Homo sapiens: one gene and its partner. The protein of the gene in region 2 purifies or fractionates together with the protein of the main gene of each other region. This does not show direct contact. Each region holds a gene or a part of one and is shown on either strand. Other genes may lie near its edges. The genes, in order: DCLRE1B and FSBP.

Region 1 (3,459 bases), on a different chromosome or scaffold from region 2:
AACACAAACATGGCTGGGCACACGGGCTCATGCCTGTAATCCCAGCACTTTGGGAGGCCAAGGTAGGGGGGATCACTTGAGGCCAGGAGTTCAACACCAAGACCAGCCTGGGCAACATAGTGAAACTTCATCTCTACAAAAAAAAAAAAAAAAAAAAATTAGTTGGGCATGGTGGTGCATGCCTATAGTCCCAGGTACTCAAGAGGCTCAGGTGGGAGAATCTCTTGAGCCTGGGAGGTCGAGGCTGCAGTGAGTTATGGCTGTGCCACTGCACTCCAGCCTGAGTGACAGAGCTAAAACCTGTCTCCAAAAAAAAGCCAAACAAACAAATGCAAACATGCTACCAACAACTAAATTCCTCAAAGTCTTTTGCTTCCCCTCCCCTATCTGAATGCATATAGAACCCACTTGAAGGAACAGGTGTGACACAGCATGTGCCAAGAGTAGACGGGCTCCCTTGTTGCTAGAAGATAACGCCAATATGGGAACCCCTGTACTGAGAACTACCTTATCTCTCCCAGCCACCTTCGGCCGCCTAGAAGTCAGACAGCTAGAGGATGCTAGAGGAAGTCCAGCTAAATTTGCCCACACAGTTTAGTAGCTATTTATTAAGTTAACACATGAGATGATTTTCCATGTGTTAACATGTACCGTTCTTGTGATCTCATTTAAACTAATGAGTCTTCAAGGTATTTTAATGCTATCCTGTCTGCAGAAAAGATGGTCAGGAAACCTTTCTGGAGGGCAATTCAGCACAATTGGTATCAAGAACTTAAAACTATAATCTAACTCCAGTAATTTACTTTAAGGAAATAAAAATGCAAAATATATGCATAAGGTTGTTCATTGTAATATATGTAATTAGAAAAACAGTACACAAAATGTTGAATATGGGAATGGCTTAGTTAAGGTATACTCACATGATAGGGTATTATACAAATATTAAAAATGGCATTTTTGAACAATATCTAATAAGTGAAATGCTTAAGATATCAAGAAATTAAAATGTAGGCTATAAAATTCTATACAATATTACCTCAACTTTGAAAAACATTTACATATTTAATACATCTACATGCATAGAAAAAAAAACTAAAAGATAGCAAATCAATTAATCTACGAGGAATTAAAATTTTTTGTTTTTTTGACTTTCAAAGTTTCTTATGTTATATACAGATTAATTTCTTTCAAGAACCAGAAGCTAAAGAGAACCAAAATCTGAAAGACCCATCCTGTGGCAGTCACTGAGCTAGGAGAATTTTACCAATTATTCAATCTCCATAGTAATCATGAGAGGTAGGAATCTCAAGTCCATCTTACAGATGAGGAACTAGGCTCCACAATTTAAGTAATTGCTCAGGGTGCCACAGATTCGAGCCTAGGCAGTCCCCATGTTTCCTGCTGCACCAAATGCCTCACCTGCTGTGGCTCCTAATAGGACGTTGGGAGACTTACAACAAAGGTCATTGACAAAACAGAGCTGTGTATAGCTTTCCCAAGAGCAATTGCTTTCTAAACTCTCTATTTCTCTCTCAAAGCAGAAAACTCTTTTAAATCCCCTGGACAAGAAATGGAATCTTCTTCACTGCTAGGGCTCGAGGTTCCATCCCAAAGCAGTTTTGATCCAGACGCCCAGCTCCACAAGTCTGTGCCCTCTCAGAGCCTACTCCCTCATAGCCGTGGTATCAGCTATCCTGCTTACTAGTTTGGCATTTTGTCAGGTTATGAGCAGAAGGACAGGGCAGACTGCACACCCCCACCCCTTCCCGCCAGCTGGCTCCTTGGTCTCTTCCTTGGATACTAAAACAAACAGGCTGTGTGCACTGGCTCCCTACATAATCCAAGGGGTGAGGGGAGCAACAAATATCCCAGCTATGTGAACAATTGGAGGAATATCTGACAACACATTTGATATTTTGTAACTGTTTCAGCCAAATAGGGTCTCCAGGCTGGGGAGTCCCTTCACACCCAAAGCCTTGTTGTTCAGCTGGGCTCTAGGTACTGCCTTGGAGAGAGCTGCCCAACCCCCCAGCTGGCTCTGTTCCACATGGATCCCAGTGATACTGGGATACTGCACATCCTCATGAAGGACATAGAGGTAGAATTTTCACTACTGTTCCAAGACCTCTTCATCGCTTCCTGTTCCCTCCCAGAGGCAGAGACAGGAAAATTATTTGGATGGTCACAGCAAGTCAGTGACGTTCAGGATTGAAGCATGCAGCGCCATAGTTCATAATTTTAAAAATAGAACTCCCTAGGGATTTTGATCTGAGAAGAGGGAGAAGGGGACATGGAGAATGGCTCATGACACCACAAAACAGCAACAGCAATAACCTGGTCCTTTTTGATTCAGACTCTTTACCTCTTTCTGTACCCACATAAGATGATTGCATGTTCACAAAAGTTTGAGAAATACTGGGTTAAACAAGGTTAAACAGATTAAGTTACTGTAGGACTTCAAAGAACTTTTAATTTGCTCACGCATACTCCAAAGATTTTATAAAAAAAGTATTTCTTAAACTTAGTTATAAAAAGAAGGATTCCATAGGCACGAGGACCCCAGTGAACAAGTTTTGGGAAGTGCTGCTCCACGGTGGGCCCATAAGAGTCTTGTAAAGATAGAAAAGTAGGCCCCAAAAACAAACTCTTTCCCACCAGCCATCAGTTACTATCTTCAAAACTGCAGTGTGGGCTCAATGTTGTCATTCTGTACTCTCCTGTCTTCAGCAGGGTTTATGGTATTTTTCCACTTGCTGGTCAAATCTCCTGGAAGAATACCCTGCCTGGAAAAAGTTCACTGGAGTCAGAAGATATTTGAGTGCTAGACCCCTGAATTCAGTAGCTAGAAGAGGGGTGCCCTTGCTGCTGTGGGACAGGGGAGAACCATGGCCCATCCAGGCACTCTGATTCCCTGTGGCTTCTGGACCTCCATCATCATCTCCCATGGGTACCAAGGGGGACCCTAAACCAATTTCCTCCCTGGTTTTTTGAGAAATAAACTCCTCATCTGTAGACCTTAAGTGCACTGAAAATCCCAGTGGGGCCGTCAACATAGTCACCCTCTTTTGAGACTCACAGAAAGGCACTGCCTTGTTCCATTCTTTGCTATAGAGATCTGGGAACAACTGCTTCTTGATCCGCAAAGGATGGTGGGAAGGCTGCTTTTCAAGGTCCGCAGGCCAGGGAGAAAGTTTCTCTTTCTTGGCCTTCTTTGAGTCTCTGTCAGCTTGAGATTGATCAGCACTTTCCTCAGGGGATTCAAACACAACACCTTGGGTTCTCGGCCTCTTTAGCCTCCTTTCTAACAGCCAGAGAAGGCTTGGTTTTCTAGAGGAAGAACTCATGTATTGCTGTACAGAGTCCGGAATCAGGGGCACGGAGATCCTGGGGCTCAGACTGTCCTGAAAGCCTCCACAGGGCCGCCGACTTACAATGGGCACCACCTGGCAAGGCTTCAGT
Region 2 (3,692 bases):
GACAAAAATTTTGAGACTAGTATGATTTAGGCACCAAGCGAGGTTCCAAAATACTCTGTTTCACTGGTTCTCAAACTTTAGCATGCATCAGAATCGCTAAAGGGTTTATTAAAAGAGATTGCTGACACCCCCAGGGTTTCTAATTCACTTGGAAATGGATTTACATTTCTAACAAGTTCTCAAGTGATGCTGATGCTGCTGGTCAGGACCCATACTTGGAAAACCATTGGTCTACTCCAAAGGCCACAAAGTGGAAGCCCAATGGCTCAGTGAGGCCCACTCACATGTTGTCTGTATAATGTTTTAAAAGCATTTTGTGTTATTTGCAAACATTTTAAAATTGGAAGATTCCTCATTAAAAAATGCAGATTTCTGGTTTATCCCCGCATGTGAAAATTCTGCTGGAGCTAAACAGCAGCTACCCTACCTAGTCCAGGGAGATGTCCTTCCTAGTCCAGGATACTACAGCCCAAATTGACTCTCTCTACATTCACTTAAAATCAATGGCTTAGCACTGCATTTGTGCTTATATACTCAATCCACTTTTTCCCATTCTTTTGTCTTTTTTCCAGCGTCTCACTCTTGACTTCAAACACCCATGGTCCCCTTCACTGCTGAAATTACACCCACCCCATTCTACAACTTGGCTTAAAAATCCCTTCTCAACAAAACCCCAGCAAAAATAGAAATTCTTAAGTAACATACATATTAGAGATTTAATATAAATTTAATATGTATGCTTTAAGAATTGAGGTTTTATTTCCATGAATACTAAAATAACAATACTTATAAAATACATAAAATTTTAATTTTGTTCATTCTGATTTTTACTGTGAAAGAAATTTTTTCCAGAACAGGACATTCAAAATGAATTAAGACATGTCTTTAAATCACACAGCCAAAATATATAATAGCTTCAATGGAATACCTTATCTATTTTGCTGGAACAAAAATAGAGAGAGAATGGGGGTAATTGATGTAATTATCCTGATTTCACAACCTAACAATCTTTAAAGGCAATTTTAATGAAAGAAATGCTTCTAATATTTAAATCTAGAGAATGTTTTAGTGGATATTTACTTCTATCGAATAGCGGGATGGAAATTACACAAAGAAAAACTAAGTGCTGGTCTCTGCTCTGCCATAAATAGCTTTGTTACCCTAAGTAAGTCATTGAGTTCTCCCTGGACCTGTTTCATTACCCCTAAACTGCAGAGATGGAAAAAAAGTGTTCTCCAAATATCTTCCATCTCTAAAATCCTAGGATTTACTCCTTCAAAAGATAAAAGCATAAAAACCAATGTCATACAGACAAGCTTCTTGGTATTAGGTTAGTATAGCTCCTAAATTAGACTGACTTAAAAATCTCTAATTATAGCTTTCAAAGTTCTAACTAAAAATGTTGAAGACTCAGAACTTTGAAAGAATATGTGTTTGTATATGCATTTGTGTATATCTTAGTGATCAGAATAAAATATCTTTTGTAAGGTCAACAATTAAACTTAGGGAAAAAAAAAAGAAGACAATAAAAACTATAACCATGCCAACCAACCAGTAAATTTTAATATCTCAAAAGAAAATAATTAGAAAATTATATCTAAAAAGTTTTTCCATAATAGAGATTAACAACATTTTTCAAGAACGTGTATTCTGTTTCAGGATATTCCCAAATTAAAGTAATTTGGCCAAAATCAAAATTATCAAATTGCAAGATTGAAAAAAAAACTTAGAGACTGTTATATTCAGGTAGATCATGCCGTAAGCGAATTGCTTTCAGCTTCTCCACTTCAATTTTTGCTCTTAGTAGCTCTTCCTCTAGCTGCTGCCTTCTTTTCAATCCATCCCTCTTCTCCTGAACATACAATCCAAAATTTTTTTGATTTTCTAAAATTATCTGATGCTCCTCTTTCAACATTTGCAGGATCTGAGGATCATACCCTAATAGTGACCTAAAGTGTTCACCACTCTCATGCCGAAAAAAATCATCTCTCCTTGGAATAGAAGATGGAGACGATGTCATTCTCATATCAACAGAGGAAAGTGAAGGCGACAAGGATCTTTCCATAACATGTACTAATTCATGTTCTTCTCTTTGCTCTAAAGTATCACTCTGTTGAGAATTTAAAACCAGTGGAGGAGGTGGTTTAATGTCTTCTTCTTGCTTCACCTCCACTGTAATAGCAACAGGATGGTGATCCAACATTACCTGTAGTGAACTGGTACCAGCCTGTGCCTCCTCATCCAAGTTTGCACTATAGCACACAAAAAAGCATTATAATATGTAAATCAAATGAAGAAAAAGTGTATATTTATAGCATAATTTTAATTTAATGTACATTAAATGATAAAGCTTTAAAACTATAAAGTTACAAAATAAAAAAAAATCTTAAACACTTGAAATACATTAAAGTGACTAAGATTGGGATTTCAATAATACATACTCACAGATCTCCCCCATCCTTAACTTTAAAATTGTGCTTTAAAGGAGCAGGAAATTACAAATATTATAGAAGGCCAATGAAGAAAATAAAAAGAAAAGCCAGTTTTCATGTTGTCAAACAGACACCAATCTTTCCCACAACCCTAAGGTTTTCAAATGGTGTACAGAGCCATTTAATGCATTCTCAGTCTTGTTATCCCCATACCTTAGCCCTAGACCTCAGGCTTCTGCTCTCCTGGACTGATCTTAAAACCATGAAGGCCCATAACTTATAAAAGGACAGTGAAAGGCCATCTATGGGAGGTACTGATTTCTGCATTTGCCCAAAAAATAAAACATAAAGATTGTATATGGCTTTGGGATATGCTCAACTACTGGAGGTTATCCTAACTTTCTTATTTCAGATGCTTTTATCTGATAGGAAAAACTTCCGTTTTACCTATTCTGAACCATATGACTCAGATGCTGTTTAAGTCTTTCAATCACTGGTCAGGTAAAGTTCACAAGAGCAATGGTTTTAATCCACAACTGTATACTCAGTACCTAGCAGGTACTGTACTTAGAACCTAGTAGGTGCTCATTATGTGTTGAATGACTGAAAAAAAACAAACTAAATGATTTTTTAATGAAACATTTTTAATGGCCTATACAGATATATTAAAGGTTTATTAAATTTACACATAATTTCCACCAAATATGCATTCCCAATGGAGACAACTACAGCTTTAGCATAATTTAAGCTTCAGCATAACAAGTTATGATATTATAAATGCAATAAACCTTAAAATTCTGTTTTATAAACATAATTTTATGTATAACGTGAAGCTGTGAATTAAGAATATCTGCTCCTTGAGGTTGTTTTTTTTAATTTATGCTTCTGCCTAACTTAAAAATAAAAGTTATAAAGGGAAATTAGATCATTGAACATGAATGGAAATACTTTATTTAATATTATTTAGAGAAGATTTTACATATAATAAGAAACATAATTAAAAGAATACATTCTACATGGATGATTAAAATGCTGGAACAAGTTCAAGCAGAATGCATAGAAAAAGATTAAAACTACCCATACGTTACTTACTAATGCCATTAAATTGCCAGAAATATCAGATATTTATCTAAGAGACAAAATGAAACATATATAGTATATAATAAAAAATCTATTTGTAGGTTATATAAATTCATTTTTGTTCTTGTCTCTGTTTGTGTCATTTTATTATTTCCAAAAACAAAACAATTAATTATAAAT

Evidence for each region.
Region 1: the proteins of FSBP (region 2) and DCLRE1B purify together in Homo sapiens (affinity purification with mass spectrometry; one large-scale study listed by BioGRID and IntAct). This does not show direct contact.

Annotation. Positions count from the first base shown.
Region 1 is NC_000001.11:113,911,456-113,914,914, reverse strand, and holds the end of DCLRE1B (5' exonuclease Apollo), read right to left. Parts: coding exon 2,724-3,459; 3' UTR 829-2,723; downstream 1-828.
Region 2 is NC_000008.11:94,430,405-94,434,096, forward strand, and holds part of FSBP (fibrinogen silencer-binding protein), read right to left. Parts: intron 2,253-3,692; coding exon 1,727-2,252; 3' UTR 1-1,726. UniProt on the Homo sapiens protein: Transcriptional repressor that down-regulates the expression of the fibrinogen gamma chain. Represses transcription of GSK3B gene promoter via its interaction with APBA1.